Homo sapiens: one gene and its partners. The protein of the gene in region 3 interacts with the protein of the main gene of each other region in a biochemical or structural test. Each region holds a gene or a part of one and is shown on either strand. Other genes may lie near its edges.

What was found.
Region 1: the proteins of APOA1 (region 3) and TRIM15 form a complex in vitro, tested with the Homo sapiens proteins (one study listed by BioGRID).
Region 2: the proteins of APOA1 (region 3) and TREM2 form a complex in vitro, tested with the Homo sapiens proteins (one study listed by BioGRID).

What each region holds. Positions count from the first base shown.
Region 1 is NC_000006.12:30,166,529-30,173,200, forward strand, and holds the end of TRIM15 (E3 ubiquitin-protein ligase TRIM15), read left to right. Parts: intron 1-647; coding exon 648-743; intron 744-1,771; coding exon 1,772-2,002; intron 2,003-2,712; coding exon 2,713-2,735; intron 2,736-3,972; coding exon 3,973-4,088; intron 4,089-4,447; coding exon 4,448-4,480; intron 4,481-5,303; coding exon 5,304-5,821; 3' UTR 5,822-6,165; downstream 6,166-6,672.
Region 2 is NC_000006.12:41,160,110-41,168,016, reverse strand, and holds the start of TREM2 (triggering receptor expressed on myeloid cells 2 isoform 1 precursor), read left to right. Parts: upstream 1-4,900; 5' UTR 4,901-4,934; coding exon 4,935-4,974; intron 4,975-6,403; coding exon 6,404-6,754; intron 6,755-7,907.
Region 3 is NC_000011.10:116,835,241-116,842,126, reverse strand, and holds APOA1 (apolipoprotein A-I isoform 1 preproprotein), read left to right. Parts: upstream 1-4,504; 5' UTR 4,505-4,522; exon of another isoform or gene 4,523-4,608; intron 4,609-4,719; 5' UTR 4,720-4,739; coding exon 4,740-4,782; intron 4,783-4,969; coding exon 4,970-5,126; intron 5,127-5,715; coding exon 5,716-6,319; 3' UTR 6,320-6,376; downstream 6,377-6,886. UniProt on the Homo sapiens protein: Participates in the reverse transport of cholesterol from tissues to the liver for excretion by promoting cholesterol efflux from tissues and by acting as a cofactor for the lecithin cholesterol acyltransferase (LCAT).

The sequences.
Region 1 (6,672 bases), on a different chromosome or scaffold from region 3:
AGGTAGCATGATGCCTCCAGCTTCATTCTTTTTGCTTAAGATTGTATTGGCTATGTGGGCTCTTTATTGGTTCCATATGAAATATAAAGTAGTTTTTTCTAATTCTGTGAAGAAAGTCAATGGTAGCTTGATAGGGATAACACTGAATCTATAAATTACTTTGGGCAGTATGGCCATTTTCACAATATTGATTCTTCCTATCCATGAGCATGGAATGTTTTTCCATTTGTCTGTGTTCTCTCTGATTTCCTTGAGCAGTGGTTTGTAGTTCTCCTTGAAGAGGTCCTTCACATCTGTGGGCACTAAGTCCTTTTCTCTCCCTCTCTATTCAACTGGAAATTTATCTTTCAAGGCACATTGTAAATGTTTTCTGCTTTCCAAACCTTCCCTTAGGCCTACAGGCAGAGCTGACCTCTGTGTTCCCATCTCACTGTGTGTACCCCTGGACTATTGCATTTATCTATCTGTATTTTAATCACTTGACATTGACTTCTTCCTGAGATGGTGGTCTCTTTAGGGCAAGGACTGGGCCTTTTCCACCTTTGAACCCCTCAGCACTCAACAGTGTGCCCAGGATGTGATAGTTAATAATTGTGAGTTGAATTATTAATTCAGTCACCTCTATCCACCCATTCTTCTCCCCACAGGATCGTCTCAGGAGTCGACTGGAAGCTCTGAGCACGGAGAGAGATGAGATTGAGGATGTAAAGTGTCAAGAAGACCAGAAGCTTCAAGTGCTGCTGGTACAGGCCACGTCACTGGCTACCTTTTCCTTTGAAGGTTTTCTTAAGAGACTCTGGGGAAACCCGTTGGCTGGTATCTGTTTCCTGGCTGAAAAGAACTGACAAACTGTTCTCGTTCACCTTCCTGTGGCTGCACAAAGGCATTTGGGATCTCAGACCATGAGCACTAGAAGTGGTTCTGATGTCTTGCAATCCAAGATCCATCTTGTATATCACATTTTACAGAGCAGAAAACTTAGGACCAGAAAAGCAATGCTCCCAAGGCCACATAGCAAAGCTGAAGTTCATGAGGAACCTGGATTTCTTGACCCTTAATTCATTGTTCTTTCCATCCTAGTCTGTTTGCCTGAACACACCACCTTCAGATGGGAAGCTTGGGGTCAAAAACATATGTTAGTGTCGGGATTCTAGTCCTGACTACAGGCTGACCTTGAGGAGAGTAGGCTGATGGTGTGGCTACATCTGGATCCCTCACGCCTCTCTTTTCATGCTATAAAGTTATGGAGGAATCACAGTGTGAGGATTTCTGGTACCTTGACCAAGGAGAGAGTGTGGGGACAAAGCAACCTATCCACCATCCCTCAGCTCTCATCAACGTATGCCCTGTAGTTGGTGATTTCCACGGCTAAAACCAAAATTACACACTCTCCCACTAAGTTGTGTTGACTCCAATCACAACTTCCTTTTGCCTCTAAGAAATTATTACAGTCTTCCCCACCTAACTCTAAGAAGGCATAGTAGGGTTATGATGGTATTGTAGTTGTGGAAATATTTTTGAAAAGTTCAACATCATTCTGAGAGCATAATGTAGCATTATTATTAGAGTATCTAGCTAAGACAGTAGCACAGCCCTCATCATTGGTAAGTTCATCCTGAGACCTAACTACTTCTAGGCATATTAGTAAATGGAATGAGTCTTGGACCAGTTGCTCCCTATCCCTGTTAATCAATAATAAGTATATAGATGATCATCCTGGAAGCTATCTCTGAGCCCCTTCCTAACCATGTCTGCCTTTTATCCCTTGAAGACTCAGATCGAAAGCAAGAAGCATCAGGTGGAAACAGCTTTTGAGAGGCTGCAGCAGGAGCTGGAGCAGCAGCGATGTCTCCTGCTGGCCAGGCTGAGGGAGCTGGAGCAGCAGATTTGGAAGGAGAGGGATGAATATATCACAAAGGTCTCTGAGGAAGTCACCCGGCTTGGAGCCCAGGTCAAGGAGCTGGAGGAGAAGTGTCAGCAGCCAGCAAGTGAGCTTCTACAAGTGAGAGACACTTCACCACTTTGTAGGATAAGAGAGGGACTCCACGGGGAAGGGGGTGGGCACCATGCTTTGGGCTGGAGAGAGGCAGGAAAGGGAAGTGGAGAGAGGTTAACGGGGTGCAGATCCAGAGGGGCTGGAGACTTGCCCAAGTCATACACTGTGGTCATGTTAAGGGGTTTAGGGTCAGACAGTCTTGGATTTGAATGTTGGCTCTTCCAATTGTGTGACTTGAGTGAGTCTCTTAGCCTCTCTAAACATGGGGACAGCAATAGCACCTCCCTCATAAAGTTATTGCAAAATTATAAGAAACAATCCATAAAAAATGCTTGGCATGATTCCTGATATACAGAAAGAACTCAATAACTGGTGTCTGCTATGGTTATGAATATGTGATCCTGGCTCACATCAGGTCCAGCTGATAACTGAAGGCAGGCCCCTGCTCTCTACCACCTCCTAATCATTGCAGACACAACCCACCCCCACGATAAGGCTGAAACAGGGAAACCAGCACAAATGAACTGACTACAGAAACCCAAATTAGTAAGAAAACATGATGTAAAAGAACAATCTAATGAGTAGGTAATTAAACAGGACAACTCTCTGCAGAAGGAGAGTTTTGAGTTCATATTTTAAGGGAAAAGTGATGTACAGAATCCCTGACAGGAAGGACTTATGGAAACTAAATGTATGTTCTTGTCTTTCTTTTGCAGGATGTCAGAGTCAACCAGAGCAGGTAGGGCCCACTCCCCGGTCCTGCCTCCTTTTACTCAACATCAAGACTGAATGGGAAGGGGCAGGGGCACTTACTGCCACCCACTTTGCCAGGAAAGCAAAGGCACTCTGGCAGACACACTGTCTCATTCAACTGTGCACAAACAGTCCAAACTCACTAAAGATTTGCGTTCTAAAGGTTCATTTTTAAATTGATTGGTTGGTATTGGGGACACATTTTTTCCCCTAGAAGTGAAGTTATAAATAATAATCATGTTTTTAGGTTGATCCAGGAACATTTATTTAATCTATGAAATTATTAGTACTTGAGTCAGTATCTAACACCATTTAAAATGTAATTTAAAGGGGGAATACTTTCTGTAGACTATGATAAGCATGGAAACCAGGAATACCAGCCTGTTCTTTCATTCATTCATTTTTTACACACATCTCTGGTTTCCTTCAGAATTTTCTAATGCTACTGTAAAAGGACAGCCACCAGGAGCCAGTGGCATTGTAAATGCATGGCCCTTTCCTTCCCTGTCTGCTATAAGCATTAGCAGTCTGCACTGAGATGAAGAGAGGTGTAGTGACTAGGGAACAATTGTCACGTGCTTTGTGCCTATTCCCGTGCAGGGAGGATAAACCCAGGGTCCATGAATCAGGAAGTGTCTCCAAACATGCTTTTCAAAGAGCATTAGAGGTTTAGATCTAGAAGGGCTTGGAGGTCTTCCAGTCTGAGGAAGAAACTGAGACCCAGGGGGTGAAGAGTCTTCAAGGTAATGCAGCAAGTGTCTAATGAGGACTGAGCTGGGACCAGAATCAGGAGTTTTTTTCATTGCAATATATATTTTCGTTGATCCTTTTTTTTTCTTCCCTTCTAGCCTCTTTTCCTTTACAAATAGCAGCATACACAAGGGTAGTTTAAGGCTGTTTTCAAATGGTACCCTGTTGCCCTCTAGAGACCAAAAGGGGTAATGATCTCTGTCCCTCAGCCCCTACAGAACCAAACATTCTCCTAAAGGGGCTTACCTCCAATTCTTGAGAAGTGATTATCCTTAGTTCCTCTTAGGTTTAACTGAAATGCCTACTATTTTAGTAACTACACATTTCCAGCAAAAGTAAAGAAATGATACTCAATTTCATTATTCACCACAGACGCCAAGATCATTCTTTAGTCTGATTTTAGCCTCACGTGGTCTCACCCGAACATTTGTTTTTGGAATTTGGACCTAACTGGTTACCAAACCTGTCTGCAGGTGTGAGATGAAGACTTTTGTGAGTCCTGAGGCCATTTCTCCTGACCTTGTCAAGAAGATCCGTGATTTCCACAGGAAAATACTCACCCTCCCAGAGATGATGAGGATGTTCTCAGGTAAAGGGGAAGGCGCCACAGTTTTCCCCAGTCCCATTAGCTGCCCTCCTGTCTTCCACCCATCTCCATCCTTCTCTGCCCTTGAAACCTGGCTCGAGACATCTTCCCTCCCCAGAGCCTTCCCTTAGTGATCTCAATTTATTCAGGGGCACTATTCCCAGAGCATCTCCTCCACTCCCTAAGGACAGGTGCAGGACTGAGAGTCCAGGAGGGTGAGGACCCTTCTCCTCCACTAGACCACAGCAGAAGCCGAGTCTTCTGTCCTCATCTTCACATTGTACTCAAGTCACCTTGCCCCTGGGGGTGCCTATAAGAAGTAATAAGTCACAGATCTCTCTTTCTATTTCTGCTTCCCTCAGAAAACTTGGCGCATCATCTGGAAATAGATTCAGGTAAACAGCTTGGGATTTGGGGAGTCATTCTTCCATTCATCCATTCAATCCATGGCAGCAAACAGAGCAATAAAATGCATGAATTCTGGAGCTTGATTGCTTGAGTTCTCGATTCCAGTTCTTGCTAGCTCTGAGACACTGGGCAAGTTATTAAGCCTCTGTCCCACAATATTTTCTTCATCAGTAAAATGAAAATAAAAGTACTGTACCTGTCCCATAAGTAGCTGTGAGGACAAAATAAATTAATACATGCAAAGAGCTTAGTATATTACCTGACTCATAGTAAGTGCTCAATTAATGTCATCTACTTGTGTAGATATTACTCGTTGAAAAATACTTATCAAGCCCTAGTTTTTTGAGAGCATTGTGCTGGGCTCTCTACTGATTTGAACAAAAAATGTGCAATTTTTTAAAAATCACATTTATTTTTAAATTGGTGCTTAATTTAGAAGTTGTTTCCATAAGCATCACCTCACTCACTCTGGTATAGGTAAGTGCTTTTCAAACTTAATATGCAGAAACGTCTCCTAGGGATCCTGTTAAAATGCAGATTCTGATTTAGTAGGGTGGGATGGGGCCCAATATTCTGCATTTCTAACAAACACCCAGGTGGTGGGGATGCTGCTGGTCCCTCCCGCTGCACTTTGAGAAGCAAATCCTTAACAGCACCACTTGCTGATTAGGTAGAAGGGCGGTTCAGAGAAGTGGCCCAATGGCAGGCTGCCCAAGTCCAGTACTCCTTCTGCCTCCCACGTGCGTTGCCTGCTCTAGGAACATCTGTGGTTGCCGCCCGCTGTTGATGTCTGCGCGCTCCTCCCTCTAGGGGTCATCACTCTGGACCCTCAGACCGCCAGCCGGAGCCTGGTTCTCTCGGAAGACAGGAAGTCAGTGAGGTACACCCGGCAGAAGAAGAGCCTGCCAGACAGCCCCCTGCGCTTCGACGGCCTCCCGGCGGTTCTGGGCTTCCCGGGCTTCTCCTCCGGGCGCCACCGCTGGCAGGTTGACCTGCAGCTGGGCGACGGCGGCGGCTGCACGGTGGGGGTGGCCGGGGAGGGGGTGAGGAGGAAGGGAGAGATGGGACTCAGCGCCGAGGACGGCGTCTGGGCCGTGATCATCTCGCACCAGCAGTGCTGGGCCAGCACCTCCCCGGGCACCGACCTGCCGCTGAGCGAGATCCCGCGCGGCGTGAGAGTCGCCCTGGACTACGAGGCGGGGCAGGTGACCCTCCACAACGCCCAGACCCAGGAGCCCATCTTCACCTTCACTGCCTCTTTCTCCGGCAAAGTCTTCCCTTTCTTTGCCGTCTGGAAAAAAGGTTCCTGCCTTACGCTGAAAGGCTGAAGTGGGGCGCGCGAAGGGCGGCGAAGCGGAGACGGCGGCTCTCCGGGATCCAGCTCCGCCCCTGGCCAGTGTGCGGCCCGGGGGCTCCCTGTGCCCGCGTGAGGCGAGAGAACAGGGGACTTGAGTCTCGAACAGCGGTTGTTTTTACTTTATTTATCTTAGGCCCTCAGCTCCCTGACGTCCTGAGCCTCCCTGTGACGCTCTGGCCTTCTCTGTACCTCAGAGTGCAGAACCACAGACGGCTTCGGCTGTGCCTAGGGCAACAGCCAACCTAGGAGCCAGCGGGCTTTCGGGGAAAAAAAAGAAAAAGACATCTAAAATAAAATGTTTAAACTGTTTCAAAATAATTATCTTGGGAAAAATCAGGGTTTTGCTGGACTTGCACTAATTTGTACAGTTAACTTCGTACTTTGACACACACCTGAAGATGCCTCCACCTTTGTAGGGCTTAGGGCCTTTTTATCAGCCCTGGGTGGACCCCAGGGCCCCTTCCTTTCCCTTCCCTTCTGGTCATTTCTCTGGACTTGTAGAGAATGTCCTAAGAAAGTGTGACTCACAGACCTCTGGATTCCATGTGTCCAATTAGCGCTGATGGGACTGGAGAAAGGCTTAAATCCAATGGGATCTGCCTGTGTTGGCAATTTAGGGCCGAGATGGCTCGAGGGAGTAGATGCAGAGAGGAAGGGTGATGATCCCTCTGTGACCAAGACACAATCCTGTCCCTTCTTTTAGTCAGGATATCCCTGATGACAGACAGTGGGACAATCACCAGGCCCCATTGTTTAAGAAAACGAGGCTTTTGCTCAGGTCTAACTAACCTCTCAAATATTTGTTATTACTGCAGTTATTAT
Region 2 (7,907 bases), on a different chromosome or scaffold from region 3:
CCTGAGTTCTCATCCAGCCCTTCCCTTGGTCTAACATCCTGCATCACTTCAGTTGGGCCCATTGGCTGCTGCTAGACTGGCCTGCTGCCTGCCTGAGACCTAGTCCAGTGCCATCACACACTCGCATGTACACACACACTCCCCAGGAGGTGTCCTGGCTTGGAGAGGGGAGTCATTGGCCCTGAATAGGAACCGAGATCTTCAACTTGGAAAATATGAAGTGTTAAAATGGAAGAACTGCCTGAGCTGAAAGTGTCAGAGGATGATGCAACAAATACAAAGAGAGAGATGGGAAGAAGGGTCAAGTCTGAGCCAGATCAGAGGCGGGATAAAGATTGGGACTTGAAGGCAGGGGTTTGGATGTAGGAAGGTAGGATAAAGTAAAAGCAGAACAGAATCAAAGAAGGAACTGGGAAAGAGAAGTCTTAAGTGGCTGCTTATTAGTGAATGGCATTTGTGGGCTCTTATGTTTGTAGTTTGGTGGCCCCAGCCAAGGGTGGAATGGACACCACCAATCACCCCTTTAAGCCCAGTTCTCAGGCAAGGCTTTGCAGGGGCTGTCCCAGGTTGGGCTGACAATAAGCCTAATCAAATTGGAGTTATTCCAGCTTTGAGAGGCCTGTTCCTATGTCGGCTGTTCCAGTCACATGCCTCCCCAGCCTAGCACAGGGGCTGGCACTGGCCATGGTCCTGACCAACACCTAGTGCTTTCCTGGCTGCTCAAGCTGGCTGGGTGCAGATGGGAAGATAATGGAGGATCTGATCTGAAAGGTGGTGAGGATGCTCATACTTGACCGTCTTGATTTACTCCTAGGGAGAAAGGAGAAGAGAGAGTGAAAGTGTGTGTTTGAGGAGAGTGATGATTTGGAACAGCTACTCTAGCCTCCAGGAGTTCTGAAGAGGATGACCAGGCAGCTGTGAGGTCTCAGTTAAAGTTAGACATCAGGAGCATGTCATGTGTGCAGTCATGCTTCTGGTTCTGAGGCTTTCCCCAGCAATGGTCACCATCATATCTAGGAACACAAAGGCTCCATGGTTCTGTAACACCATGCCTGGCACATGAATGAATGCATACATCGGTGAGTGAGGAAGTTCAGACGTAATGACAGAAGGACATAAACTCTGTGCCCAGATGTGAGGTGGAAGGTATCTTTGAATTCAGATTTAGCAAAGGGAAAAGAAGAATCCTGTGCTTGGGAGTGCGGGTGGTGCAGAACTGTTCCTGTGCTCAAATATAGGATCGAGGGATCAGGAAAATTAACACAAGTTTAAAGAAGAGCCTTTGATGTACATGTGCTGTGAGTAATTGGTAAGGATTTCTTGGTGCCTTCGCTTTTCCATGAGGTTTAAAGACCTTTTCCTCATGTGGGAAGGAGTGGGGACATGGGGTCAATATGCAGCTTAAATGGACCAGAAGATAAGATAAAAACTTATGGAGCTTATGAGTTATGCTTCTGCCTAGGAAACAGAAAGCTAGAATCATGTAAAATAGCACCCCAAATCATAAAATATTTAGGTAGAAATTTAACAATATATGTGCACGATTTGTATGCTGAAAACTGAAAACACTGATGAGAGAAATCATAGAAGAAACAAATAAATGGACAGCTGAACTGTGTCCATGGCTTGGAACACTCAACAGTGTTGTCTATTTCCCTCTAAAACTAAACCATAGAGTCAATGCAATCCCAACTGAAAGCCCAACAGATTTTTGGGGGTGAGAAGAAGAGGATTAGAAATCCACAAGCTGATTTTAAATTTTACATGGCAAAGCAAAGTAACTAGAAGAGTCAAAACCATTTTGAAGAACCACTGTTTGATTTTAAGACAGTGTAAAGCTACAGTAAGTTATCAAGACAGTGTGATATTGGAGAAAGAATAGACATATAGATCAACGGAACAGAACAGTCAGAACTAGACCTACATGTCAATTGATTTTCAACAAATACACTAAGGTAATTCAATGAAGAAAAGAAAGTCTTCTCAACAAATTATGCTAGTACAATTGGACATTCATATGTTGAAAAAATTGCAAAGTGCATCTTATACCACATGCAAAAATTAATGAAAAATGAATCATAGACCACAATGTAGAACCTAAAACTATAAAACTTCCAATGGAAAACATAGGAGAAAATATTTGTGACTCTGAGATGGGCAAACTTTTTAACAGAGCACAGAAAAGCACAAATTGTAAAAAGAAAAATCAAGGAATTGGACTTCATCAGAAATAACATCTATCCATTTAGGCTGGGTGCAGTGACTCATGCCTGTAATCCCAGCACTTTGGGAGTCTGAGCCAGGCAGATCACCTGAGGTCACGAGTTCGAGACCAGCCTGGCCAACGTGGTGAAACCCCGTCTCTACTAAAAATACAAAAAAATTAGCCAGGCGTGGTGGCAGGTGCCTGTAATCCCAGCTACTCAGGAGGCTGAGGCAGGAGAATCGCTTGAACCTGGGAGGCGGAGGTTGCAGTGAGCTGAGATCTCACCATTGCACTCCAGCCTGTGTGACAAGAGCAAAACTCTGTCTCAAAAAAAAAAAAAAAAAAAAAAAAAAAAGATGCTGCTAATGCTGCTAAGGAAATGAGAAAAAAAGTTACAGACTAGAAGAAAATATTTGCAAATCACATATCTGATAAAGGACTGCTATCCAGAATAAAAAGAATTTTCACAGCTCAATAATAATGATAATAATAAACAATTAAAAATGGACAGGACAAAAGTTTTGAACTAATACTTTGCTGAAGAAGGTACAGATGGCAATAAACAACAAAAAGATGTCCAATATCGTTACTCACTAGAAAAATACAAGTTAAAATTGAAGGAGATATCACCTTAAACCTATTAGAAAGGCTTTTTAAAACCTGACAATATTAACTGTTGACAAGGATGTAAAAATGGTACAGCCTCTTTGGAAAAGACTTTGGCAGCTTTTATAGACTTAAACATACACTTACATGTGACCCAGCAGTCCCATTCTTAGGATTTTATCCAAGGGTAATAGAAACATATGTCCACACAAAACATATGTACATGAATGTTTATAGTGGCTTCATTTATAATTGTCCCAAACTGGAAACAACCCAAATATCCATCAGCGGGTGAATGAATACGCTACTTGTGGTTCAACCATAGAATGAAAGATGGTTTAGCAATAAAAAGGAATACATTCTTGAGAAGTGAAACTTCACGCATGCTGAATTTATTCTGATGAGTGAATAAAGACTGACCCAAGAGGCTACATACTATTTAATTCCATGTCTATGACATTTTAGGAAGGGCAGGAAGCTACAGAAACAGATGTCAGCTTAGTAGTTGCCAGGCCCTGGATTGGAGAGAAAGAGACTGGCTAAAATGGGCACAAAGGCTCTCGCTTAAGCTAAATGAAACTTTCTATATTATGGTATTGTGTTACACAGACATGGTGATTGTGGTGGTTGTTATAGAGATGCATGAGTTTGTCAACATTTACACAACTAGACATTTAAAAGGGGTAAATTTTTGTATATGTAAATTATGGGCCAATAAACCTGACTTCTAGAAAAAGACCCTAGAAGAGTACCTACAGAGTGATCTTCAGGCAGCCTCAGACTTCAGCCCCCAGGCCCTTGGGGCAAGGCCGGGCAGTTGGCCCTTTGAGTGGAGGCCTGTCTTCTCCTCACTATGAATTCCCCATCTCCAAGCACATTCCCTGTCCGTAAGTTAGATGCACAGTAAATATGAGTAAATAAATGAATAAAAGAACAAATAAGTGAGTGTTTGCAGGAAACTAAAGTAGACCCTGATAATCTACAGGCTCCTGCAGGCTTCTCCAGCCTCTTCTGCCACTCCCAGCACAACTCCATTTCCCACTCCTAGAATTGACTCAAGCCTCCTCCATCCAATCCCCGACTCACTGGGCCATTTCACACTTTTGTGCCTTTGCACACGTGGGTCCCTGTGCTTGGATCACCATGGGAACCTGTACGTGTAGAAAAACACACCCCTACCCCCAGAACTCTGAGAAATATCCTGTCCTGTCCTGTAGGATAGGATGATCAGGAGTTCAAGCATGTGTGTGCACAAAATAAACACCAGTGTGAGCATGTGTGCACAGGAGACACCCAACAGTTCCAAGAAGGCTAAACTTGGGCAGAAAATTCCAGGTGGGAGAGAAAATTTTCTGTCTTATGGACAGCCCATTTCCCTTTTCCCTTCTAACTAGGATAATGGTAATAGTTAGTATTTGTTGAATGCTGTGTGTCAGGCCCTACTGGAAAGCACTTTACCTGTAGGAACCCATATGGTGCTCCTGATAACCCTTTGCACTATCATTATTCCCACTGTATAGATCAGGGAACAGACACAGGTAGGTTTTGGATGTGTGGTTACACACCCAGAAAGTCAGGAAGTCTGGCTCCAGAGCTGTGTACTTAACTGCTGCCACACTACAGGAATGACAGCCCTGGGGGGATGAACTAAGAGGTGCTGGATGAGGGTCCTGGCCTCTAAAGGCACAGCTGTTCTCCAACTCTTGCAAGGCTGAAACCAGAAGATGGCGGGCATTGCAGCTGGTGGAGGGTCTGAATACAGCTGTGAGGATAGTGATCCCTGGGCTAGGCTCTGCAAGGAAACTGAGCAGTGCAGGGCCTTACCAGCCCCAACCATCTGGGGGCCACCCTGGCTGGCACCAGCAGGAGGGTGGGCTGGCTTCTCAGAGGTCTGGGAGACTCAGCCTCCTTCTGCCAGGGCTGCAGTGGCCGACTCCTCCTCCCCTCTGTCCCCACCCTGCACCGCCTCCAGACCCCAGTCCTGACTATTGCTTAATCCCCAGGAGCCCAGTTCCTGTGGGCAGCGCCTGACATGCCTGATCCTCTCTTTTCTGCAGTTCAAGGGAAAGACGAGATCTTGCACAAGGCACTCTGCTTCTGCCCTTGGCTGGGGAAGGGTGGCATGGAGCCTCTCCGGCTGCTCATCTTACTCTTTGTCACAGGTAGGATCCCCTCCGTGCCCTGTGATGCCTTCTCTCCCTCACTTTGAGCATGTGGTTGGGGCGCGGGTGGTGGGCCCTGGGGTGAATTATGAAGGCGGTGGCAGTCCTCGCATGCCTGAGTGCCCTGTTCTGCACTCCTCTCCTCCCCACCCTGCCCATATTCTTCACACCCTCCTTCCCTCCCCAGTATCAAAACCTACCCTCAGACTCTTTCTGCATGTGGACATGTAAGGGGCTGGTGGACTCTGGTTGCATTGGAAGGGAAGGAGTGCTAACAGTGGCATCCCAGGCACTAGCTGGCAGTTGGGGGAAGCTTTGGGGGGCACTGGCACTGGTAATAGCCTCTGAAATTATAAGCCACTAATTATGAGCCCCTACAGTTATAAAGGAGGAAAGAACCTGAGGATGTTCATCTGCATCTTTGGGGCACTCTCTCCCCTGCTCTGAAGGTCCCCTTGTCCTCAGCTCTTGATGGGAGGTGAGGAGCGTAGAGATTTCCGTTGCTGAGTTGAGGGGAATTGACACACCAAATTTTTGTACACAATTGCTTCTTCCCGCTGAGGAAAGCGCACCTTTTGCTCCCCCAGAGCACTGGACAAACCTGGGCAAGAGGAGAGACGGTGCCAAATGGAGTCTTGTTCCTGCAGCTTCTTAGATGGTGGTCAGGGGGAAGGCGGGGTTCTGAGGCATGGATGGGAGGTGGTCAGATGGGAGAGGGCCACGGCCCATCTGGTCTCTCTAGTTCCAAAAGGCAAGCCACCAACTTCCCAATCCTATCTTTCAAGCCTCTGTCACAGTAATGGTTGAAGATGGCAGGCAAGGGAGGACCAAGAGAGAAGTCAAAGCAGGGGGCTCTGGGGGCTGCCCCAGCAACAGGCTGGTGCTCTAAGCCCATCTCCCCCGCCCTAAGGAGGGTTCCCAAAATAGCAGCCTCATGTCTCCCCCAAAATATCTCCGAGACGGGTCCTTCCTGAAAGGGGAACAAAGCCACAGAAATAGGGAAGCTGGAAGTTAAAGGTCAGGAAAGTCGGTACCAATGTGGGCGGCTGCAGAGCAAGCAAGAGTGGCGGGGCAGGGAGAGCCAGCCCCAGGCCGAGAGGAGAGGTCCCAGTCCCAAATGATGGCAAAGAGATGTGCAGAACAGAACTGGAGGGGGTTTTAAGACCAAGTGCCTCCAGAATAGACCCAGAGAAGGTCAGTTACTTCTCCAAGGAGGCCCAGCAAGAGCAACAGTGAGAAAACCAAACCCAGGTCCCAGGTTTCCTGGTTCCCAATTTCCCACAAACACATGCTGTGCCATCCGCTCCCAACTTGTATAAGAACCTAAGCTCCTTCAGGGCAGGATTTTTGTCTGTTTAGGTCACTGCACAGAGCAAGTGTTCAAAGCGTATTTGGTAAACAAAGGAGTGAATGAATGTCTCCTCCCCAGAGCTGTCCGGAGCCCACAACACCACAGTGTTCCAGGGCGTGGCGGGCCAGTCCCTGCAGGTGTCTTGCCCCTATGACTCCATGAAGCACTGGGGGAGGCGCAAGGCCTGGTGCCGCCAGCTGGGAGAGAAGGGCCCATGCCAGCGTGTGGTCAGCACGCACAACTTGTGGCTGCTGTCCTTCCTGAGGAGGTGGAATGGGAGCACAGCCATCACAGACGATACCCTGGGTGGCACTCTCACCATTACGCTGCGGAATCTACAACCCCATGATGCGGGTCTCTACCAGTGCCAGAGCCTCCATGGCAGTGAGGCTGACACCCTCAGGAAGGTCCTGGTGGAGGTGCTGGCAGGTGAGTGGGCAGTGGCTGCCTCTCTGGCCTGCCCCTGTTCCAGGCCTCATGTTTTGGGCGTCTGTGTGCAGAACCACCCACTGGGCTCTCAGGGATCCTGGGAAAACCCATCGTATGGTCTCATCTCCCTACTCAGGGCTACCAAGGATAGTTGTGCAGGTTGCTCACTATACAAGGGGGCCAAAATCCAGCCCGGACTCCTTTTGCCAGACTGTGTTCCCTGGTGCAGAGCTGCATCACCTGCAAGAAGGGCACCTTTCTCTACTTTGCATTAAGGCACTCTGTGAACTAGCCTGGCCTTGGCCCTCCTTGCCCAAACAGCTTTATCCATCTCCATCCAGTTAGCATGTGAACATGATAGGAGGTCCTTAAGGAGGAGGAGATTAATTTATTCCCTCACCAACCAACCAATGGCCCTATCAACGTAAGTGAAGCACCAACCTGGTGCAGAAAATCACCCCTAGAAAGGAACACTGCTTGTGCTGGGCAATGTGCTTCACTTCTCTGGGCCTCCATTCTCTCATCTGTAAATGGAGAGGGTGGTGTCTGTCCTGCTGACCCCATAGGGTTCCTGTGAGTTTTTATTTGGCGGGGGGCGTTGGGGGCAGGGTGTGACATGTGCTCCAAGCCTCCTGCTACTGAACTGTCTTGGGATCGTCATTCCAGGTGTGAGTAGGTGGGCCAGGGTGTCTCCTTTCCACCCCCGAGCTCTGCGCAGGGACCACCCTCCAGGAAGGCCTTCTGCTTGAGTCTGCAGAACACAACTGTGTCCCCAAAGGAGAACAAATCTGGGGCTACAAAGGCCTTTTCTGACTCTCCTCCTTTCCAACCCCTTCTCCCAGTATGGCTCTTTACCATGGAAATGAGGTCAGGAGTAGTATTTGCCTGACTTGGGGAGGCCAGGGGAGACTGCCAGTCATAGACACAAACCCCACCTCCACCACTTTCCTAAGGATGGCCGGTGGCAGTGAACTCCCTTAGCCACCTCCCAAGAGGGAGACAGAAAAATAAAAGTAGCCCATAGCTTGTGTAGACAGCTTGACAGTTTAGATAGGATTTTCAAGTACATCCACGATTGTATTTGCTCTTCTTAGCCCCTGTGCGGAAGGAGGGGGGCATTGCAGTTACTGAGCTCCGATGAGGTGCTGGATAC
Region 3 (6,886 bases):
TAGAAAGTTGCTGTAGGGCCATTTAGATTAGAGAAGAAAAGAGCCTTCTCAAGAAGGGCCTTCTGGCCGGGCGCGGTGGCTCACGCCTGTAATCCCAGCACTTTGGGAGGCCGAGGCGGGTGGATCACGAGGTCAGGAGATCGAGACCATCCCGGCTAAAACGGTGAAACCCCGTCTCTACTAAAAATACAAAAAATTAGCCGGGCGTAGTGGCGGGCGCCTGTAGTCCCAGCTACTTGGGAGGCTGAGGCAGGAGAATGGCGTGAACCCGGGAGGCGGAGCTTGCAGTGAGCCGAGATCCCGCCACTGCACTCCAGCCTGGGCGACAGAGCGAGACTCCGTCTCAAAAAAAAAAAAAAAAAAAAGAAGGGCCTTCTAAAACTCCTCTGAGTCTGTATACGCTGTCATGCAAGACTAGGTGAGTCTCTAGAATCAAACAGTGATAATACCCAGATGCCTTCCAGCAAATTGTAGCACCTGTTGCAATAGGTGCCACTCCCTCCTAAAATCAGCCAGGGTGCCTTTGGACCAGAGGTAGGGTGAGCTTTTGTAGGAAGCAGGGCACTGGCTCCTGGATACAGACTGGAGAGCTTAGCTCCAGAAAACAGGAGCCATGTTGACAGAAAACCGTGCTCTACACAGTTTTCTTTCTGACTTTGTGCCAGCCCCCACCCCACCCCAACTGCAAAGATCAAGAACTCAGAGGGCTACTGTGCTTCCCTCCTGCTGATCAAAGATGAGCTCTGTCCTGGCCTTAGTCTTTTCCAAGCAGGAGGGCAGGAGAGAATCTTGCATAGCTGGCTACGGTGCCCCACCCAAGGGTCTAACTTGGGGCTCTATCACAAAAGCTGCAGCAAAATTGCCAAAAGTAGGAACTACTGGGGGTGGGGGTCCTGTCTCCCCTGCTCAGTCACCACCTCCCCTCCCTAACTCTCATTCTGGCTCATACCACGTGCTCCCAGAAGAAACGTTCTGAGCAGGGGCTGGTATGAGACTGCCTCCCCTCCCAGGACCCACTCCTCCCTATGACCAGGCTGGTGACCCTCCCTCTAGGGTGCCAGTGCCATTCACTGAGCAGATGTTTGGCAGGTGTCTGTTATGTGCCAGACCTAGCAGGGGACAGAGTCCTCCCGATACAGATGGACCAGTATGTTTGGACATAAATTGTGAAAGGAGTTGCTAATCTTTCTGTGCAAAATCCACTCTTGCGGTCACCGCCAACACTCCTACACATGTCAGGGCATCCAGGGCCAGGACTTGGTAACCCTGTTCAGGAGCAGTCGCTCTGGAGACTCCCAAGACGAGGGAAAGAAATGGGTGGAAACAGGGGCCTACACTGTGGGCCCCGCAGCCACCAAACAGTCCAACCCGTGGCCACTGAGTGCCTTGAACAATGCCTGGCTGGACCCTGAGTCTGAGTGTGTCATCAACCCAGTTTGTTATTGTCGTTGTTGTTGTTATGTATTTTTCCATCAGCTCTGTCCAGAAAGACCTCCTTCCTTTCCAAAATATTAGTAAAGGGGGCTTAGACTAGTTTAAGCCAAATACCTTGCAATAAAATGGAGTAGCCACCCTGGTGAATAAGTATATTTAGAAAAGGAAACTGCCTGCTTGGTAAGATGCTGTTCAACAGCACCCCCTATCCTGATGCCTCGCAGTCCCTGAGCCAGGAAACTGAGAAGTCCCTGATCAGACTGCAAAGGCTGCAGGCTCCGCAAGGGTGCAAGGCCACCCTCAAAGAACTAGAAGCCAGGCCTCCCGATTCCCACCCCTGCCAGCGCTAAATAGTAACCGCTGAAGGATGCAGGGCAGCTGTGAGCTGCAGTTTTCCCACAGGCAAAAATCACAAGGGTAAAATCTGGCCTCCAGCCTTATAGGGATATTCTAAGTTGTGAAAGTGCTTTGGCCACAAAGAACTGCGCAAATGTTAAATACTAGGTTTAGCCATAACAATCATTTTAGTAACAAACCAAAGAGAAGGGTGAAACACTGGCAAGTATCTTGGAGTCCAACCAGTAAGCTTCTGAGATTCCCCCATGTGCTGACTGGGACAAACTCTACCCCCCAAAAGAAAAGACGCTCTCTTGGCCCGAGACACCTGTGAGCTGTCCCAGCAGGGGACCAGCCACCTTCCCACTTTCTAAAGCTACAGACAGCTGGGATGGTCAAGTAGGCAGCCCAGGCTGATGGCTCACCAAGGCCACCTCCCTGTCTACACAGTCCCATAGACATCTGGGGCCACTTCAGTCCTAGAAAAGATGTTCCATATCTCAGCAACTGCAAGTCAAGGACAAGCAGAGAGATGTGGGACTGCTGCCTTCATGCCTGCTGCAGAAGCTGAGGTCTCAGATCTGATAAAGCAAGTGTAGTGGGAATAAGGGAATACATTACCAGAAACTGGGATTCTAGAAAACAGAATAGTTACTGTTTACTAAGTGCTAGGTACCTTTCTAACAGTTTTGCATATATGTTCAAAGTTCATGCTTAAAACGATACAAATTTATTATCTTACAGTTATGGAGGACAGAAGTCCAAAATGGGTCATACTGGGCTAAAATCATGGTGGCAGCAGAGCTGTGCTCCTGGAGGCTGCAGGGAAAAATCCTTTGCCTTCTCCAGCTTCTAGGGAAGGGTTGCTCATGTCCCTCAGCTCATGGCCCCCTTCCAGCAGTCACGAGTCTGATCTCCACTGCCATCCTCACATCTCTTTCTCTGACTCTGAGGCCACTGCCTCCCTCTTGTATAATTAAGGACCCCTGTGATGACAATGGGCCCACCTGGAGAATCCAGGCCAACCACCCCATCTCCAGGTCCTTAATCACACTAGCAAAATCTTTTTTTGCCATGGAAGGTAGCAAAGCCACAGGTTCCAGGGATGAGGCTGTGGACATCTTTGGGGAGCGTTATTCTGCTTGCCACACAGTAACCCCTGCCATAACTCAGGGCGATGGCATATTCTATCATTATCTTCAATCAGAAACTGATGTGTGGGGAGGTGATGTATCATAACTCATCCAGGGTCAGGCAGCTGGATTTGAACCTGCCTGACCCTTAGATTTGAGGTTTTCTGGCTCCAGAATCTTCTCTGAAGTGAAAGGCATGAGGCCGACCACTCCCTGATCTGGTAAACAGAGATGTCAGCCTGGTTTCTAGTGTTAGGGAGTTTCCTGGAGTGATGGTACAGGGTACATTTCTGCCCTGCATCCCAAGTCCAGAGACTGGGTTCTAGGTCCAGCCTTTCTTCTAACTCCCTGAGAGATGACAGCCTCTGGGCAAAGTCCCTCTGTGCTCTTCAGTCTCTTCATCTGTGAGATGGTGGCATGGGGAGAGGCTGGAGTGATGTCACAGTTCCTCTCAGCCTGCATCACAGGCTCTAGGACTCAGGTCCTATCAGTAACCTGCTGGGGGAGGTCTGGGCCTTCCAGGAGAAACCTGACAAGATGGTGCTGCAAACACCAACGGACACACAGCACTTTACATTCACAGGCTGTCTCAGGGGCCTCCAACAACCCTGACCATTCTTGCCCCATTTTGCAGATAGAAAACCGAGGCTCAGAGAGATTATATAACTTGCCCACGATCTTCCTCCAGCAAGATGGAGGCCAAGTGAAATGAGAAAGCAGGTCTCCTGCCACTTCCTTTGCCCAGAGGTCTTCTCCCCACACCAGGGCTTCCCAAGGGCTGAGATCCAGTCACACCTGTGCGTGATCAAATATAAGTGTGAACAATGCAAAGGGAGACGTCTTCAATCTAAGGGGCTTCAATTCTGTAATGTAATTCTGAGATTATGCCCTTTTTTGTTAAAGCCTTTCCTTTTTGAAGTGATGGTCACTGTAGATGGTGAGGGTTTTTTGGAGGCGGACAATATCTTTACATGACAAAATTAAAAGTTGGCAGCTCCGAATTGATCTCTGGAGTGTTTTGAAATGCAAGAGGTCTCCGAAACCTCAGTCTGGGAGCCACGGAGGGCTCTCCCCTCTCCCCAGGTTTACCAGTTTGGGAGGCTTGGAGAGAGGCCTGGAGGACCTGCTGGGGACTAAAGAAGAGCACTGGTGGGAGGACAGGGCGGGGGAAGGGGGAGGGGAGTGAAGTAGTCTCCCTGGAATGCTGGTGGTGGGGGAGGCAGTCTCCTTGGTGGAGGAGTCCCAGCGTCCCTCCCCTCCCCTCCTCTGCCAACACAATGGACAATGGCAACTGCCCACACACTCCCATGGAGGGGAAGGGGATGAGTGCAGGGAACCCCGACCCCACCCGGGAGACCTGCAAGCCTGCAGACACTCCCCTCCCGCCCCCACTGAACCCTTGACCCCTGCCCTGCAGCCCCCGCAGCTTGCTGTTTGCCCACTCTATTTGCCCAGCCCCAGGGACAGAGCTGATCCTTGAACTCTTAAGTTCCACATTGCCAGGACCAGTGAGCAGCAACAGGGCCGGGGCTGGGCTTATCAGCCTCCCAGCCCAGACCCTGGCTGCAGACATAAATAGGCCCTGCAAGAGCTGGCTGCTTAGAGACTGCGAGAAGGAGGTGCGTCCTGCTGCCTGCCCCGGTCACTCTGGCTCCCCAGCTCAAGGTTCAGGCCTTGCCCCAGGCCGGGCCTCTGGGTACCTGAGGTCTTCTCCCGCTCTGTGCCCTTCTCCTCACCTGGCTGCAATGAGTGGGGGAGCACGGGGCTTCTGCATGCTGAAGGCACCCCACTCAGCCAGGCCCTTCTTCTCCTCCAGGTCCCCCACGGCCCTTCAGGATGAAAGCTGCGGTGCTGACCTTGGCCGTGCTCTTCCTGACGGGTAGGTGTCCCCTAACCTAGGGAGCCAACCATCGGGGGGCTTTCTCCCTAAATCCCCGTGGCCCACCCTCCTGGGCAGAGGCAGCAGGTTTCTCACTGGCCCCCTCTCCCCCACCTCCAAGCTTGGCCTTTCGGCTCAGATCTCAGCCCACAGCTGGCCTGATCTGGGTCTCCCCTCCCACCCTCAGGGAGCCAGGCTCGGCATTTCTGGCAGCAAGATGAACCCCCCCAGAGCCCCTGGGATCGAGTGAAGGACCTGGCCACTGTGTACGTGGATGTGCTCAAAGACAGCGGCAGAGACTATGTGTCCCAGTTTGAAGGCTCCGCCTTGGGAAAACAGCTAAAGTAAGGACCCAGCCTGGGGTTGAGGGCAGGGGTAGGGGGCAGAGGCCTGTGGGATGATGTTGAAGCCAGACTGGCCGAGTCCTCACCTAATATCTGATGAGCTGGGCCCCACAGATGGTCTGGATGGAGAAACTGGAATGGGATCTCCAGGCAGGGTCACAGCCCATGTCCCCTGCAAAGGACAGACCAGGGCTGCCCGATGCGTGATCACAGAGCCACATTGTGCCTGCAAGTGTAGCAAGCCCCTTTCCCTTCTTCACCACCTCCTCTGCTCCTGCCCAGCAAGACTGTGGGCTGTCTTCGGAGAGGAGAATGCGCTGGAGGCATAGAAGCGAGGTCCTTCAAGGGCCCACTTTGGAGACCAACGTAACTGGGCACTAGTCCCAGCTCTGTCTCCTTTTTAGCTCCTCTCTGTGCCTCGGTCCAGCTGCACAACGGGGCATGGCCTGGCGGGGCAGGGGTGTTGGTTGAGAGTGTACTGGAAATGCTAGGCCACTGCACCTCCGCGGACAGGTGTCACCCAGGGCTCACCCCTGATAGGCTGGGGCGCTGGGAGGCCAGCCCTCAACCCTTCTGTCTCACCCTCCAGCCTAAAGCTCCTTGACAACTGGGACAGCGTGACCTCCACCTTCAGCAAGCTGCGCGAACAGCTCGGCCCTGTGACCCAGGAGTTCTGGGATAACCTGGAAAAGGAGACAGAGGGCCTGAGGCAGGAGATGAGCAAGGATCTGGAGGAGGTGAAGGCCAAGGTGCAGCCCTACCTGGACGACTTCCAGAAGAAGTGGCAGGAGGAGATGGAGCTCTACCGCCAGAAGGTGGAGCCGCTGCGCGCAGAGCTCCAAGAGGGCGCGCGCCAGAAGCTGCACGAGCTGCAAGAGAAGCTGAGCCCACTGGGCGAGGAGATGCGCGACCGCGCGCGCGCCCATGTGGACGCGCTGCGCACGCATCTGGCCCCCTACAGCGACGAGCTGCGCCAGCGCTTGGCCGCGCGCCTTGAGGCTCTCAAGGAGAACGGCGGCGCCAGACTGGCCGAGTACCACGCCAAGGCCACCGAGCATCTGAGCACGCTCAGCGAGAAGGCCAAGCCCGCGCTCGAGGACCTCCGCCAAGGCCTGCTGCCCGTGCTGGAGAGCTTCAAGGTCAGCTTCCTGAGCGCTCTCGAGGAGTACACTAAGAAGCTCAACACCCAGTGAGGCGCCCGCCGCCGCCCCCCTTCCCGGTGCTCAGAATAAACGTTTCCAAAGTGGGAAGCAGCTTCTTTCTTTTGGGAGAATAGAGGGGGGTGCGGGGACATCCGGGGGAGCCCGGGTGGGGCCTTTGGCCCTGGAGCAGGGACTTCCTGCCGGATCTCAACAACTCCGTGCCCAGACTGGACGTCTTAGGGCCAAGATCGACGTTGGAGGACCTGCTGGACGCCTGGCTGCTTACGAGTGAGGGAGTAGAGTCTGCCTTAGCAAGGCTCAAGTAGAAAGGAAGTCACAGCGGACCAGGCAAAGCCACAGACAATCCAAGGCCAGGTGCCCTGAAAGGGGCTCAAACAAGGCCTGCAGCCCTGTCTGAGGCGGGCCAGGAAACAGGGTTGCTTTAGCTGGGAGCAGTGGGTTCCCCGTCCCCAGAGGTGTGTCCGTATAGAGCCTTCTCCAGCCCAGCCGCTGTCAGCGGGGCGGGACGGAGCGGGGCGGCCTCAGGGAGCCAGCCACTGGGATTGGGGTTTGGTCCCGGGTGCAAGTGAAGCGCTTGGAGTTTGCGCCTGTCCTCCT